Linked DNA regions of Homo sapiens: regions 1 and 3 are each linked to region 2. The links come from fine-mapping of genetic effects on gene expression. A gene starts in region 2. Each other region holds a variant in brackets. All regions are shown on one strand. Distances are from middle to middle. Region 1 overlaps PANX1 (pannexin 1). Region 2 holds the start of HEPHL1 (hephaestin like 1). Region 3 overlaps HEPHL1 (hephaestin like 1).

Evidence for each region. PIP is the estimated chance that this variant, and not a neighbour inherited with it, causes the effect.
Region 1: its variant is the best candidate, but not a certain one, in a credible set for the expression of HEPHL1 in kidney cortex (GTEx, PIP 0.52).
Region 3: its variant is the best candidate, but not a certain one, in a credible set for the expression of HEPHL1 in sigmoid colon (GTEx, PIP 0.76).

What each region holds. Positions count from the first base shown.
Region 1 is chr11:94,137,539-94,143,220 of GRCh38, reverse strand. The region is part of intron 1 of PANX1 (pannexin 1); the gene reads right to left. Among named protein-coding and RNA genes, the nearest start is that of PANX1, 12 kb to the right of the region's middle. The variant G/A (reference allele first, on the strand shown) is at 2,421.
Region 2 is chr11:94,018,614-94,024,295 of GRCh38, reverse strand. It overlaps HEPHL1 (hephaestin like 1), which reads right to left and starts at 2,942. Exons shown (of 20, transcript NM_001098672.2): 1 at 2,758-2,942. The coding sequence starts at 2,927.
Region 3 is chr11:94,079,717-94,085,398 of GRCh38, reverse strand. It overlaps HEPHL1 (hephaestin like 1), which reads right to left. Exons shown (of 20, transcript NM_001098672.2): 10 at 2,831-2,981. Among named protein-coding and RNA genes, the nearest start is that of PANX1, 46 kb to the left of the region's middle. The variant G/A (reference allele first, on the strand shown) is at 2,482.

The DNA of each region.
Region 1 (5,682 bases), 120 kb before region 2:
ATCATCTCTCCCTCAAAGATGCCTTTTAAAAGCTGGATTTTGTAGTTCTTGCGACAAAGAAACCCTTTTGTGTAGGACAAGGCCTTGAGTGTTTAAATTCAGTACTGAAACAAAGATTAGTGACTCTGGCAACATGAAAAGGACTTACAATGACTGTTACTATTATGTAGACAACTGGTCATGAGATCTCTTTGCAAACAAGGGCATTCTAAATAGACAAAAACTCATGACAGATGCAGATGCTAGAGTGGCAAACACTTTTTCAAGGAACCTCAAAAAAGAAAAGGGACATCCACACTTTTTCATCAGAGCTGGGTATTTAATGCCACATGGCCTTTATACCAGGAGCACGCCCTCCCCAGGGCTCCATTCTTCCCGTTTCTACACGGGGCAACAGAGCACAGGTATTCTCCCTAAGGCACTCAGCTCAACTGTGTGGCGCTTAACCCAAAAAGCATTCACTGGGCTATTATGTACATGGTACCATATGCAATGCAAGGGATTCAAAGATAAAGAAGACTTGGTCTCAGCCCTCCAAGGGCTTACAGTCCAGTGGAGGCAGCCAAGGATATAAACCACCAATTATTGTAGATGAAAACAAATCACATAAGGGTAATGACTGAACCATGACAAATGTTCGTACTCAAAGGAGGAGAGAAGGGAACCTAGGCTTGGAAAACAGCGCAAGAAAACACTGAGTCCTTAAAGCTGACAGCCCATTTAAGACAGGAAGCAGACCACTGTGTCTGGAGCACACAGTCAAGCTGGGGTCAGATAAAGGACATCCTGGGGTGACAGACTGGGAAGTCCAGACTTAAATTTATGAGTAAAGGCAAGGAGGGCTTGGTAGGTGAGGGTGAGGAGCTGTGTTTTGTGTTTTCAAGTCCCCAGTGGTACTATAATCCATACACCCATGTTCCTAATGACCAGCTGAGGCTGCAGTGCTGAACTGAGGGTGAGGTTGGTGGTGGCGCTTAACAGACTAGGCACCCTCCCCAGCAGGAATCCAAGGGGTAGGGAAGATAATCCTAGGGCAGCAGAGCCGGAGACCCAGCACAAACCAGCAGCTTCTGAGCTGGGCTGTGAGCTTGCCCCACGCAGTCCTGTGTCCCGCAGACACACGACAGGAAGGGGCAGAGAGCACACAGCAGTGCCTGAGAACCCAGGCTCTGGAAAGAGCAATGCACTCTAGCCCCACTCTGTGTGCCCCAGACACATTCCCCAACCCCAGCAGCCCCAGGTCGTCACCTGTCAAAGGGCCAAAACAGGATTAGGGGATGTTTAGCAGCTAACCTGCGCTGAGTGCTTCCTACGTACCAGACACCGTTCCAGTGCTTCGAGCGCTAATTTATTTAATTCTCACCCTGTGACACAGGTGAGAATTCTATTACTGCCCCATTTACTGACAAGGAGGCTAGGCACTGAGAAATTCTGTAACTTGTCCAAGGTCTCACAGTCAATGTGTGCCATGCCAGAATTGGAACCCAGGAAGTCTGGCTTTATAACTCATGCCTTAATCATTATTCACATTTCCTAATAAATAATATTTGCTAGTTGACTAAATGTAAACAGGAAACAGAGGGCTCAGAAGTGAAACAACTAGGGTTTTTTGAAAAAAACATTTTAGCTTAAAAAAATTAATTAAAAAATAGTTAAGATGGATTTCAGAAGGAAGGGGTATTTCATAAGCCAAGGAAAACAAGCGGAGACCTGTCAGTCTCTCTAGGATCAAACATCCCAGGCCAAAGAAAAAGGTGGGCACTGGGGAGGGAGGGGGCAGTCACCAGACACCGCCAAGTGTCACAGTGAGCCCAGAAATGTGTGTCTCATGAAATCCCAGTGTAAATAGGGAACTACAAGCTAAAACAATGAGATGGCATTTTAACCATTAAGATTGGCAAATTTAAAACTCTGAAAGTATTAAACATTGGTAAAGAAGTAGGGCGGGGTTGGCCTATATTGGTGATGGGAGTGTAAACTGGTATTCTGGAAGGCAGTTGAAAGTGTCTTTTAAATTTAAAATGTGCACAACTTTTGTCCCTCTGATTTCAAACCCCACTAGAACAACGGTTCTCAAAATGTGGTCTGGAAACCCTGAAACCTGAGACCTTTTCAGGAGGTTCACGACATTAAAACTATGTTCACGATACTACGTTGTTACTTACCTTTCTACTCTCGTTCTCTCATGAGTGTATGCAGTGCAGTTTTGGGGGCTACTGATGTGGGATATTACAACATAATGAATGAGAATCCAGAATCCAGTCATCTACTATGAAATGAAATATTAAGTAGATTTTCAAAAATAGAAAATAATGCTATTCTTATTACTAAGTTTTTGTTTTATAATTATTTTTCATAAAAATATGTTATACCTGAACATGTAATGGGTTTACTTTAAATCAATTAATAAATATTTTTAA[G/A]TCTGTCAGTTTTAATTTCTAATATGATAAATACCAATAGACAACAAAATCTCTTTGGAATTCTCAAGAAATTTTAAGGGTGTAAAGGGGTCCTAAGACCAAAATGTTTGAGAACCACGGCTCTAGAGAAACACATTCTGCACAAAGAAGCACATGCAAGGATGTTCATTAAACCACTGTTTGTAGTAGGAAAAAGTGGAATGAACATACTAGCCCATAAACAGACGGTTAAATGAATTGAGGTATAGTCACATGATGGAAAATTGTGGCACATTTAAAAAGATGAGGCAGATCTGCATGCACTAACATGAAGATATCTCTGGGACATATTAAAGATAAATGAGCAAACTGCAAAAAAATGAGCACTGTAAAAGAATATGCACTAAACAGGAACAGTAGTTACCTCTGGGGAAGAAACTGAGATTGAGGTGTGTCCATAAAAAAGGGCAGGGCTTTAATGTTTCCTCTTACTGTCTGAACTTCGACATATATAGACATTTGGCAAATTAAAATTAACCTGGAAAACTCCCTCCACTGCCACACCAGCAGTAAGGTGAGGGGACCTCCTGGGGCTGATGCAGTGAGCACCCCAGGACAGCCATGGGGTACCCATGAATGGGCCTGTCTCATTAGCTGAAGCACCAAGTCCATGTATAGCCTATTTATCCTTCATACTGAAATATTCACCACTTTCTGAACCGATCTGGAAGTTGTAATCTTTTTCAAAGCATTTCTACTCTATTTAGCCCATCCATTATTTATTACAGCTTCCCACAATTACAAGAACAGCAGTAATAGAACTTCTGACCAACCAGCTATAAATTGAGGATTCCTACAACCCCTTCCTATGGTTCATTCATTTGCTAGAGTGACTTACAAACTAAGGCAAACCCTTTACTTACTATTGGCAATTTACGAAAAAGGATCTTTTAAAGGATACAAATGAACAGACAGGTAAAGAGATACACAGAGCGAGGTTCAGAAGGGTCCTGAGTGAAGGAGCTTCTGTCCCCATGGAGTTGGGATGCACAACCCTCCCAGCGTGGATGTAACGTGGATGCCCTCGGAACCCTCTCCCTGGGTTTCTATGCAGGCATGGTTGATTAGATCATGAGCCACTAGTGATCAACTCAGGCTTCAGGCCCTCTCCCCTCCCGTGAGGTCAGGGGTTGGGGCTGAGAGTCTCAACCCTCTAATCACATAGTTGGTTCCCTTGGCAACAAGCCTGGCTCACAAGGCTATCCAGGAGACCACTGCCATCAGTGACCTCATCAGCAGAGTGCTGGGAAACCAAAGACCAAATAAATATTTATTATATATCAAAATAGTGTTCCTCATAACTACAATATTTTAAAAGGTCCAATAGTGAGATAGCCTGACAAGTTTCCAGTAAGGATCCTGCTGATAATGATGCTCTTCCTATAATTCAAGAGCCTTTTAAATATCTGATATATTATGAGAAATTAATCTGCTAAGGCGATGTGACAATTGGTGCCAAGCAAGTCACTCACTTAGATTGCTGAGCTTCAGTTTCCCTGTCATGATTCTAATATTTTATAACTTTAATTTACCTAGGTATCTACTCACATCTAAAAACAAGCCAGTATGAAAGCAGTGACAAAATGGATGGTCTGGTATTTTCATGAAAATTAATAGACCAGTGGAACAATATAAACAGCCCAAAAATAGGCTCACTTACTTGAGTTGACTATATGATTGGGAAATCATCAAGGATCAATGAATAACGAACGGGTTCCTCAATAAATGACAATGGGGGGATTATCAGCTAGAGTCTTGACTTATAGCACCAAAAGAACAAAACAGACTGTAGAGGTAAATGTTCAAATAAAATCATTAAAGATCATTTTAAAAAACTGATAGACCTAAGGATGGGCTATGACAGTCTAATCATAATGCAACTGAAGAAATAATTAAAAGATGGGTAGTTTTGATGACTTAAAATAACTTCTGCTTATCAAAACTTATACTGTAAAGGTTACTGAGGGATGGCTGTCAGGGGAAATGGGGATGGTTAATGGGCATAAAAATAGAATGAATAAGATCCAGTATTTGATGGCACAATAGAGTGACTGTAGTCAATAATAATTTAATTTTACATTTTAAGATAACTGAAAGAGTACAACTGGATTGTTTGTAACGAAGGATAAATACTTGAGGAGATGGATACCCAATTTCTCCTGATGTGATTATTACACATTGTATGCCTGTGTCAAAATATCTCACATACCCCATGAATATATACCTTTACATACCAACAAAAATTAAAAATTAAAAAACAAAAATGCTTAACATAAACAGAATTCAAAGGAAACGGACAACCGGAAAAGAAAATACAATAAAGGCTAGCTAGAAAATATTTGAAACATAGAAATAGTTAATAAAACCCATTGAGAAACCAACATCCCCTTGGAAAAATAAGCAAAAGATAAGAACAGACAATTCACAGAATTATATAAATGGAAAAAATACATACGAAAAAACATTCAATGCCGTAACTGAATAAATGCGACTTAAAACAATGGCACACCTTTGTTCACCTATTAAGCTGTGGACGATAATCCACTAACTTTTGCCAGCTGTGGGGAAAGCCACTCCTTCAGCTGCGGGGAGAAGTATCCATTGGGGGTCTATCCAGAGGGCAACCCAACCACACCAGTCAAATCTTAAAAATGTCTATGTATACTTTGACCTTGTAATTAGAATTATACAATCACTTGAAATACTGAGATCTTTAGAGAGGTGGTTTATTATGTACAGGAGTGTTCTTCACAATGCTATTTATATTACAAAACTTGTGAAACAGTTAAATTTTGACACGTGCACAACATTCCATGTCACTGCCAACAAAAAAAATCATGTACAACAATTTAGGAACATGGTAACATGGCCTTGACTTAGTGTTTGGTTTTTCAAGAATAGTAGTTATCCCTGGTAGTATTATAGATGTACTGCTATTTTCTCTTCTGTATTTTCCATATTTTCTACAGTAAGTTTTATCTTTATAATGATATAATATACATATATAAATATTTATATTTTAAAAAGGAGTGTGAGCTTTATAGAGAATTTATTAAAAAACAACAGCGTCCCCTCCCCACCACCCCTTTCACCCCCCACAGAACTAGGTGTGCCTGGTACCAAGCAGATGGTAGATTCTCTTTAGGCCCCCTTCTCCCCAAGTAACTAATGTCTCCCTGCTGCCCCCAGAAACCCCACAGCATGCAGCGGGGCCTGCCTCGCC
Region 2 (5,682 bases):
ATTATATGACATGTTCAAGATTACACAGCAAGTTGGGCAGAGCAAGCATTAGAAGTTAGGTCTCTGGATTTCTATTTCAGGTTCTTTCCATTCATGGTGGAATTCTGAGCACCTGGCTCTCCTGGTCCTTTAAATATCAGACATTTGCCCAAGTGTGAATATCCAAAACAACAGACTGTCCTCAGAAAGGCAGCCTATTCACCCTCCAGGAGGCTGAGAGAGGGGCATGATTACATCATCCACGATGGCTCCTTCCTGCTCCTGGGGAAATGGCACAACACAGAGTACACACACTGAACTCCACTTATGTCCCAGTCACAGCATCTTCACATACACCCAGGATGGATATCTTGTGGTCCACAAGCAATGTCAGCCACCTACGACAGCCCTACCTTTTTAGGAACTTGTCTGAGCCACCTACCACAACTACTAGCACTGATGGGATCACTGATAAAAACCAGTATTCTGATGGGATCACTGATAAAAGCCAACGTCCACTGCATACTCACCTGGATTTCCCTTCCAAGAGGTAGCAGTCTGTCTGACACAAACTCTGTCCCTTCGCATACCAGAAAGAAATGTTTGGGGACCTTGGCGTTCTAGGTATGACACCTTAGCATGCCAGCTGCTTCTAAGAACAAACGCACTATCATATGGGACCATGCATTTTGAAACCATCTCACTCAAATCTGATGCCAAACCAACTGTTTTCATCATGCCTATTTTCTTTTTCACCATAGCAATTTTTATATGTTTTATTGTACTTTCATCAAAGCACCATCTTCTGGTTGAAATGATCAACAGAGACCCCAACTTCTTCCAGCACCCCACTTTGTGAAAACAGCATTGTAGTACTTGAGTATTTATGATTCTTTGAGGTTTTGAATTAACCCAGATAACTTGTTTGGTCACTGACCACCAGTGATCCCTTTCAATATGCTTCTAGGAAGAGTGACAAAAGAGACTAAACATGCCTTTGGCAAAAATTAGGACTTTCTAGAAAGTTCTTATTACTGTGATCCTTGGCTTCCCTCAAAGTTGTTTTAATTCACTGGAGAAGGATCACCTTTACCAAGAAACAGATTGTGTGGTGAAAAGAAATATGGGCTGTGGAACCAAAGCAATGAGTTTGGTGCTACCACTTACTTATAAACTCCGGCAAGTATTTAACCTCAGAGCCTTGGTTCCTGGTTCATAAAATGAGAATAATAATATCTGCAAGCAGTAATGAATTGAAAAATCCCTCATAGAATTTTTGGGTCAGAATAAATGCCCATACACAGCTATAGTGACGTGGGCATTTTAGGAAGAAGAATTTCTGTGGGTGTTAATCTTATGGAAAGGCAATCCAGTATCACATTTAGCTTAAACGCTATATTCATTACACTCAGTGTACACACTTTCAACATTCTTATCCCCAGTAGCTGCTCACATTGACTGTTTCCTACTGAGCCCTCTCTGAGAATAGCAGAGCTCTATTTGTAGAGAAGGCTCCTGGCATTTTTGGTACCCTTTCAATCCCATAGCTATTCATCACAGTAAAGACACTACCACCAATGGTCAGCAGATGTGGGATTGAAAGCAATCAAGAGTTTCCTTTGGAAATAGCCCTGCAGACATTACATTTCCAGGTACAAAGCTTAAGGAAAAGTCTGCCTTGGCAGCTTGTCTGGCACAGGCTTCATCTTTGGTAAACAAAACATGACTATACCACCTTTGTTTTGTTAGAAAACTTGGAAGCTGTATTTCCAAGCCAACTGGATCTTTGGTCTTTCCTCAAAGACAAGGGGCCCTGGCTCTTAAAGACTTGCTGGTAGGCCCTGTGCTGTTCCTGAATTTTATCAACTAAACTCATCTTTAGGAAATGGAACATGGATGCAGAATGCAACTGGTTCTGCCTGTCAGAAAAGAAGCAAGCATTCAAATATCCAACAGAGGTTGCCAAAACATCTGAAAAGATGTTCTAATAACCACAAAGTTGAAAATAGCATGACATCTTCTGGAGTCAGGAGGTGACTTCAGAGGGAGATCCATGAAACAAATTAGATGGTTAAGATACTAGGCCCTGGAGGGGGCAGGGAGAAAGGGTTATTTTCTGCCCCAAATTAAAAATCAGGAACATAGAACACCGTGGCGCCATCTCACCTAGCTATGCTATAGGTTCTGGGATAAGATATTGCCCTCAGCAAGAATGACTTGGAGCTGGAATAAACTTTTTACCAGTGAAAGCGCTAATTCTAAGTAGACTCAAGGAAACCCTGAAAATAGCAGGCAAATCTCCTGTGACTTCCCCCTCTTTTAAACGTTGAAAAACATGACTTAGCATACTTATCTCCCATTATGATGTTTCATTCCAGAAATACAAACTAAGAAAACACTGTGTTTTAACCATAAGGAATTCTTGAAATTTCTCAAATCTTCATCCCAAGTGTTGTCATTTAAAAACAAACAAACAAACAGAATCCCCCAGAAGTTACTAGTAGTACCTGGTGGAAATTGTCAAACACCTGGTTGTGTATATGTCCCTTCACAGGCAAGGCTATTAATAGGTGGCTCAACAAATACATGGAGCTATGAATATCTCTTCCAGATTACACACCCATCCATACTAGGGCTCTTCAAGCAAAAAACAAAACACCTTCTCTTGGTCTAGATCAACTCACCCCCATTGTAAGTACCCAAGAAATACAACCTTCCCCACACAAAGTCAAAAAGAGGCCAAACCTGGGAGTCAATGAGGACCCTAAGTTCACTCACTTGTCTTCTGTGAAACTTTTCCCAGTAATAACATTCTTCCCTTGGGGTACATAGTTCCAGTATTCTTCCACAATCCCAATGTAGTACGTTCTGGTAACTGTGCCAACCAGCCCAGACAGACCCAGGAATGTGAGGAGAAAGATGCAGCCAGCTGGCTGCTTCCGAGGCATTTGTGGATGTAACTCAAGCAGGCAGGCAGCCTGCACAGGGGACAAATCTGTTGGTCCCTCCCCCTCACTCAGCTCCTCCTCCTCAGGTAGCTTGGGTTTGGGGAAGAGGCAAAGGCTGAGGCCTTGCGTAAGCAAAGCAAGCTCGATGGGGGCGTTGCTTTGACAACAAAACTTTTGCCAGCCATCCGAGAAATGTGTGACTGGCTCATTTATGTATTGCCCAAGCCAACAGGCCTGTTTCTATACGTTTCGGTACCATGCTCTGACATCAGTCATTTGTCAGCCAGGATGACAGTGTGACTACTTGAGCCGATGGCTTTCCCCCACCCCTTCTTCTTCTTTTCTTCTCCACACCTCTTACATTAAAATCTGAAAAGTGAGCTGGCCTGAGTGGAGCATCAGGAAACACTCCAGGCACTAAAGAAGGCCTCCTCTCTGTCGGGAGGGCAGAGGAAGTGACATAATCACCATCCAGCTTGTTTTATGAGGCTATGTGAAACCACAAACTAACATCATAAAGTTCATCACAACAACATAAAACCCCACTAATCCTCCACTGGCTCGTGTACCATCTCCCCCATATTCTCTCAAATCCTTCCAGCAAAAATGAGAAGGTTGACTGCTCAGTTCAGCCAAAATGTTCGCGGCCACCACCTCCACACAGGGAGCCGCCTTTCTTAGGATGAATGAAAATGATGATGGGGAAGTACCCTTCAGACACATGGAGACAAAATTCAGTAACAGGTCTTTGGGTGGAAAAGGCTGGGCCATTCTTCTGTGTCTTCTAATCTGTGTCCCAGAATCTCGGTATTGAAAGAGACCTTGATCAACCTTGGAAAAGAGTTACTCTTATCCCCATGCACAGTTACTCTTGAGGGAGCAGCCATGGAATGAAGGAAACAGCCTCCTGGCCTTTGAAGTTGGTCAGACCTGGGTTTGAATGTGAGTTCCCACCACTTTCCAATTTAGTGGCATGGAGGAATCACTTAACATCATTGAGCTGGAGACTATAGAAGAAGGATTGAGGGATTCTTAAGGAACTTTTTAAAAGATGATGTCTGCAAAGTGCTTACCCCAGCCCCTAGCATAGGGTAGGTACTAAGTAAGTGTTAAAGTCCTTCCTGCCCATTCATGCCCTCTAAGAGAGACTGTATCAACCTGTGTATCCACAGACTTGTGTTTCCCCGCAGTCTTCAACTTTCTTTCCACTATTCTTTGCCAAAGTCCTATCTGCCATGCCTTCCACCAGTCTCAAGTAAGAGAATTCTTTTTCTTTAAATGGTAGCTACCCTATAAATGTCCCATAGCACAGTTTGTATTAGCATTCATCTTAATTAATAAAAGGCCAGGCACGGTGGCTCAGGTCTGTAATCCCAGCAATTTGGGAGGCCAAGGCAGTCAGATCACCTGTGGTCACGAGTTTGAGACCAGCCTGGCCAACATGGTGAAACCCTGTCTGTACTAAAAATACAAAAATTAGCCGGGCGTAGTGGCAGGCGCCTGTAATCCCAGTTACTTGGGAGGCTTAGGCAGAAGAATCGCTTGAACCTGGGAGGTGGAGGTTGCAGTGAGCCAAGATTGTGCCACTGCACTCCAGCCTGGGCAACAAGAGCAAGATTCCTTCTCAAAATAAGTAAATAAATAAATAAATAAATAATAAAATACATACTGAGTATCCTGTTTCATAGCCAGGCTCTTTACAACTTTGATTTACTGATTTGTTTGTTGTATCAAGGACACTGGTAGAATAATTGCCACAGCACATTTCCATTTAGCTAAAATCTCCTCTTCAACATGAGTTTGGGAGCTTCGTATGAGTCTGGCACTTCAACGGACACTATAGAGGAGGACTTACGTGGTAGGCCTGAGGTTGGCCTCAGAAGAAGTAGGGAGTTCAAAGTATGGGGAATCTGGCCAGGCGCAGTGGCTAATGCCTATAATCTCAGCACTTTGGGAGGCCGAGGTGGGTGGATCACCTGAGGTCAGGAGTTCGAGACCAGCCTGCCGAATATGGTGAAACCCTGTCTCTACTAAAAATACAAAAATAACCCGGGCATGTTGGTGCATGCCTGTAGTCCCAGCTACTAGGGAGGCTGGGGCAGGAGAATCTCTTGAACCCTGGAGGCAAAGGTTGCAGTGAGCCAAGATCTCACAACTGCACTCTAGCCTGGATGATAGAGCGAGACTCTGTCTCACAAAAAAAAAAAAAAAAAAAAAAAAAAAAAAAAAAAAGGTTGTGGAATTTGGAAATGTCCCAAACCAAATATCTTGTTGCTTACATCCCAGAGAAGCTGGCTATTTTGGGCGTATCAAAGACGTTATTAGGACATATTCCCCCCTTTTTGGACAGGAGAAAAAAAAAGGTATAAGTGATACAGCTCAAAAAGACAAAAGAGTTAACTTTCTTACCCAAGATACTGAACGCATATAATTAAAACCCAGGAGAAGGCATTACCTAACTTCTGATTCAAAAACTAGATCTGCAGAATAGATCAGGTCAAGAAATCTGAGTCACTATAGCAGATGAAGTCAACGCATTTAATCTATTTGTAGCAGAGAACTTGCTTACAGAGGGCCAAAAGTGGGAAAGAATTTATTAAAAACAATGAAATAGGGTTCTGGAAAGCTCTCTTAAATTCTTCCTTATCCTAGGACAATAAAGGTGTTACTCAAAGAGCATTGGAATGCCATAGGAGCTAAAGAAAATAAACTGGTATGAGACAATGCAGTGTTCCTGTGACACTCATTTCAGAAA
Region 3 (5,682 bases), 61 kb before region 2:
GAGTAAATAAATTTGCTTTATGATAACTCGTACTTCCTTACCCCAGTACAATTACTGGAGGGACTTTATTAATAAATAATGATTAGTTAGATATGAAGACCCTCTGTGCTTCCAGAGTGGCAAATTGTTTTTATCTTTGACATCAACCCCAATCCATTGATAGTGGCTATCTGAAAAAGTGCCTTGACAAGAATTTAGAAACCGCATTCTCACCCCATGGGGATGAAAGCCATGATATAACGCAATGTCTGACTGGTAAATGCACATAATTGTGTCTCATGCTTGATGTTTCTTGGAGAAATAAATATTTCTACCCCCCTCCTGCTCTCTACTAAGCCTATAGCAGGAAGGAACTATTATCATGCACATGAGTGACCTTCTGTTATAATCCCATTGTCAAATAAAATTACTTTTTGTTAGGTTGGTGCAAAAGTGATTGCAGTTTTTGCCATTGAAAGTAATTGCAAAAACCGCAATTACTTTTGTACTATCCTAATATTTCTGTGTCTGCAAAACCAGTGGTGCTTGGTAATTGTACTCAGATCTGGGATTATTGGTAGAAATTCCAAGAAATTCTGGCACTTCTGAGAAGGACACCACATTTTATGAAAAAAAAATCTTTGATAATGTCTTTGCAAATAAATGATCTAAATCTTGTCCATCAAATGTTAATGAAATCTGAGTATAAATCAAGGTGCTAATAAATTCAGTCCTTGGCTGGCTGGTAGAGAATCTTCTCTTGCCTTGGAATGCTTGTTTAAAGCCTCTCTTTCTACAACAGTCACTCATCCATTCTTTCTTTCAATAAACATATTTTGAATACAGACTATATAATAAACACAACACAAAGCATTGTGCACCATGTCAGGCCCTTTCTTTTTGGCTTTGTTGCTGTCTTCCTTCCACTCCCTGCAAGCAAGACTGAAGCTAGAACTTAGTTTATAATTAATGTGACATTTGAATTAAGATGCATTATTTGCCTTGAACTTTGTTTTAACAATGATATATCCTGTATTTATATATTTATTTATTTATTTATTTATTTATTTATTTATTTATTTAAACAGAGAGAGGGTCTTACCCTGTTGCCCAGGCTGGAGTGCAGTGGAGCCATTATGCTTACTTCAGCCTCAACCTCCCGGGCTGAAGAGATCCTCCTACCTCCTACCTCAGCCTCCTGAGTAGCAGCTGGGACTACAGGTGCACACCACCATACCTGGCTAATTTTGTATTTTCTGTAGAGATGGGGTCTCACTAAGTTGCCCAGGCTGGTCTTGAACTCCTGGATGCAAGTGATCCTCCCACCTTGACCTCCCAAAGTGCTGGGATTACAGGCATGAGCCACAGTGCCTGGACTATATATTGTATTTCTAAATATGAAAGTAGTTTCACATTGCCAAAATAGGGTGGGGCTGGATTTGATGTAGTTCATTCAGTTGTTTATTATCTTTTTAAATGAAGACCAACCTCTTTGATGATAAATTTCTTTTACAATTTAGTTTCTCCACCAAGAAACTGCTATATTTCCTTATTTCCACCTTAATTTCCCCTTTATATTGTCTACTAAGAAGTTTGGAAACAATATTCATATTCAGTTACAGCAAAACCTTTTGTAGAAGATGACACTGAAATGTACTACTCCATGCTTTCCATTGGCACAAGAGGGGACTCTGTTGGAAATGAGCATCTGGGACCATAGGGTCTGTGACCTGGTTGCCATGGGGCACTTGTAACCTTGGACTATTTTTTACTTCCATGCAAGGAAGGGAGGTTAAGGGCTATTTTGTTATTCTTCCATAATGCTTTAAAAGGCAATAAATAGATTTTATGCTGGGTCCTAAAACAAGCAGGTTAGCACCTGTTGTCTTACGTTACTTGCTTCGGGCACTTTTATTGACTGCACACTCTTGCAGGCATTGAGTTTGGACTCTCATTACTCTGCTACCTTAGGTAATATGCCTAAGAGTAATGACATCCTGTGTTACTCACAAGCAATTAGCAGGTGGTTTGCTATTGTAACACTTGATACAAAGAGACAGGGAGAGAGAATTAAGTAATTCCTCTCAAATGAAGATCTGGGATAGGAACAGCTAGTGTTTCACAAATTAACATTCACCAGTCACTCATACTACTTAATTAAATCATTCATACTACTTAATTATAGACACTTTGCTATGTAATGATTATCTCCTATTGTCACTTTGGTTTTCAGACTTAATGTTATTGTGAACCCAAGGGAGAGTAGTTTGTCAGTAATTTTCTACATTTATGATATACTGTGAACTTGGCTAGTTTAAATTTTTTTTTTTTTTTTTAGACGGAGTCTCACTCTGTCGCCCAGGCTGTGCAGTGGCACGAACTTGGCTCACTGCAACCTCCACCTCCGGGTTCAAGCAATTCTCCTGCCTCAGCCTCCTGAGTAGCTGGGAATATAGGCACGCACCACCATGCCCAGCTAAGTTTTGTATTTTTAGTAGAGAC[G/A]GGGTTTCACCATATTGGCCAGGCTGGTCTCCTGACCTCGTGATCTGCCCACCTCAGCCTCCCAAAGTGCTGGGATTACAGGTGTTAGCCACTGTGCCTGGCCGCTAGTTTAAAATTTGTGTTCCTTCATCTAAGGCTGATAAAGTGCTCTAGAAGTATTAAATTTCACATCTCTGAGAGATAGGGAGGTTTCACCATACCATCTAAAGCTGAAGGCATGAAATAACTTACTCATGACCAAGAACAATATCCAAGAAACCAAAATTAATATAATTCAAACACACCAATCATTTTCACTTCTAATGCAAGTCAGCCTTTCATTTACAGGCGGGAATGTCATTTGTCATACCATGCATTCGGTTGGATTTCACAAACTCTTTATCTTCTTTGTCAATGCTGAAGGGATGCCAGATAAACTTCTGAATGTTTTCATCAAAATATCTGCTCAGATTCTCATCAAAGACTGTGAACAGTAGGTAAAACTCCTTGTCTATTCCTTTCTACAGAGAAGAAAGAAATGAATACATAAAAGGTACAGCTTGGAGGAATTCACAGAATTGCTTTCCTTCAAAGTTCACACAAAATATTAATAAGTCAGGGCAGATCAACATCAGCCCAAGAGTTCGCAGGTCATTTTTAAATAAAGATACTGAATGTTGCTCTGATGAATTTATTCCCCACTCAGAAAATTTGTCTTTCTTGTTACATCCGTCCTCCAAGGAAATCAGCCCCTGCTTAGAAGGCTTTCTACTCTTTTGGCCTCTGTTGCCAGGCTGGTCCTCAAGGACTTTTTCTCCTTACCCTGACCTGCCAGCCCTGGCCCAGCTTCTCTCTCTGACTTCATTTCCCTGTACTCACCTCCTAGCTTGCTCCAGACACCCTGGCCTTTTGCCCTTCCACGAACACACCAACCTCATTCCTGCCTCAGGGTCTTTCCATGTGTTGTGGAACATGAATTGAAGAACTCCCTTCCTCAATTCACTTTTCTGCATGTCATTTCCTCAGAGTGGTCTTCCCTAACCATCCTTCTAAACTTATCTCCATCTTCTGCCCAGAAACTCACTCACTTTACCCTATTTTATTCTTCACAGCACTTATCTCCACCTGAAACTATTTTATTTATGAAGTTATTTTTTTTAACTTTTTCCTACTGCAATGTGAGTTTCATGAGGATAGGAACACTTTGGATTCCTCTCTGTACCTGCATCACCAAGAAAAATGCCTGGAAAAGCAGGCATCAAGTATACATTTTTGAGTGAAATAATGAATTCATATAACTGACGAGACTTAGCTAAATTATGTTAACTTGAGTGGATAGTGAGGGGACAATGGATATGACTTCCCACAGCATGTATTCCTAATCAGTCTATTTGAGCCTATCTGATCACACAGCATCACAGATCGCTGCAGTATGCTTTCCTTTAGAACTGACCAGAGAGATGACTATGTTTTCTTTTCAATTTAATTTAAAATTTTGGGATACAGGTGCAGTCTGCGCAGATTTGTTACATAGGTAAACATGTGCCATGGTGGTTTGCTACACCTATCAACCTGTCACCTAGGTATTAAGCACAGCATGCATTAGCTATTTATCTTGATGCTCTTCCTCCCTCCACCCCTACCACCACAAGCCGCAGTGTGTGTTGTTCCCCTCCCTGTGTCCATGTGTTCTCATTGTTCAGCTCCCACTTATAAGTGAGAACATGCATTGTTTGGTTTCCTGTTCCTGCTTTAGTTTGCCGAAGATAATGGCTTCAAGTGCCATCCATGTCCCTGCAAAGGACATGATCTCATTCGTTTTTATGGCTGCATGATATTCCATGGTGTACGTGTACCACAATTTGTTTATCCAGCCTGTCAAAAGACATGGGCTTTTCAGTTGATTCCATGTCTTTGCTGTTGTGAGTAGTGCTGCAATGAACACATACATGCATGTATCTTTGTGATAGAATGATTTATATTCCTTTTGGTATATGCCCAGTAATGGAACTGCTGGGTCAAATGGTATTTCTGGTTCTAGGTCTTTGAGGAATCACCATACTGTCTTCCACAATGGTTGAACTAATTTACATTCCCACCAACAGTGTAAAAGTGTTCCTATTTCTCCACAGCCTTGCCAGCATCTGCCATTTCTCGACTTTTTAATAATTGCCATTCTGAATAGCGTGAGATGGTATCTCATTGTGGTTTTCATTTGCATTTCTCTAATGATCAGTTAAGTTGAGCTTCTTTTCATAGGTTTATTGGCTGCATAGATGTCTTCTTTTGAGAAGTGTCTGTTCACGTCTTTTGCCCACTTTTTAATGAGTTTTTCTTCTTTTAAATTTGTTTAAGTTCCTTGTAGATTCTGGATATTAGACCTTCATCAGATGGATAGATTGCAAAGATGTCCTCCAACTCTCCAGGTTGTCTGTTCACTCTGATGATGGTTTATTTTGCTGTGCAGAAGCTCTTTAGTTTAATTAGAACCCATTTGTCACACTTTGCTTTTGTTGCAATTGCTTTTGACATTTTCATCATGAAATCTTTGCCTGTGCCTATGGCCTGAATGGTATTGCCTAGATTTTCTTCTAGGGTTTTTATAGTTTTGGGTTTTACACATAAGTCTTTAATCCATCTTGAGTTAATTTTTGTATAAGGTGTAAGGAAGGGGGTCCAGTTTCAATTTTCTGCATATGGCTAGCCAGTTCTCCCAGCATCACTTATTAAATAGGGAATCCTTTCCCCACTGTTTGTTTTTGTCAGGTTTGTCAAAGATCAGATGGTTGTAGATGTGCTGTCTTATTTCTGAGTTCTCTATTTTGCTCAATTGCTCTATGTGTCTGACTTTGTATCAGTACAATGCTGTTTTGGTTACTGTAGCCTTGTTGTATAGTTTGAAGTCGGGTAGTATGATGCTTCTAGCTTTGTTCCTTTTGCTTAGGATTGCCTTGGCTATATGGGCTCCTTTTTGGTTCCATATGAATTTTAAAGTTGTTGTTTCTAATTCTGTGAAGAATGGAGGTGACCATCCTTTCTATCCCTCAATGCTTTCCTGTCTCTAACATGCTCCCCACCCAAGCCACCTTCATCCTGCTGCATGCTCTGGAGGGACCCTCAGCAATGTCATCTGACCATATCTCTCTCCTTATGTTGGACAATACAGTCTCATCTAATGGTATTCCGGTTCCTGCCTACCTGTTCAGCCTCATCTCTTGACTC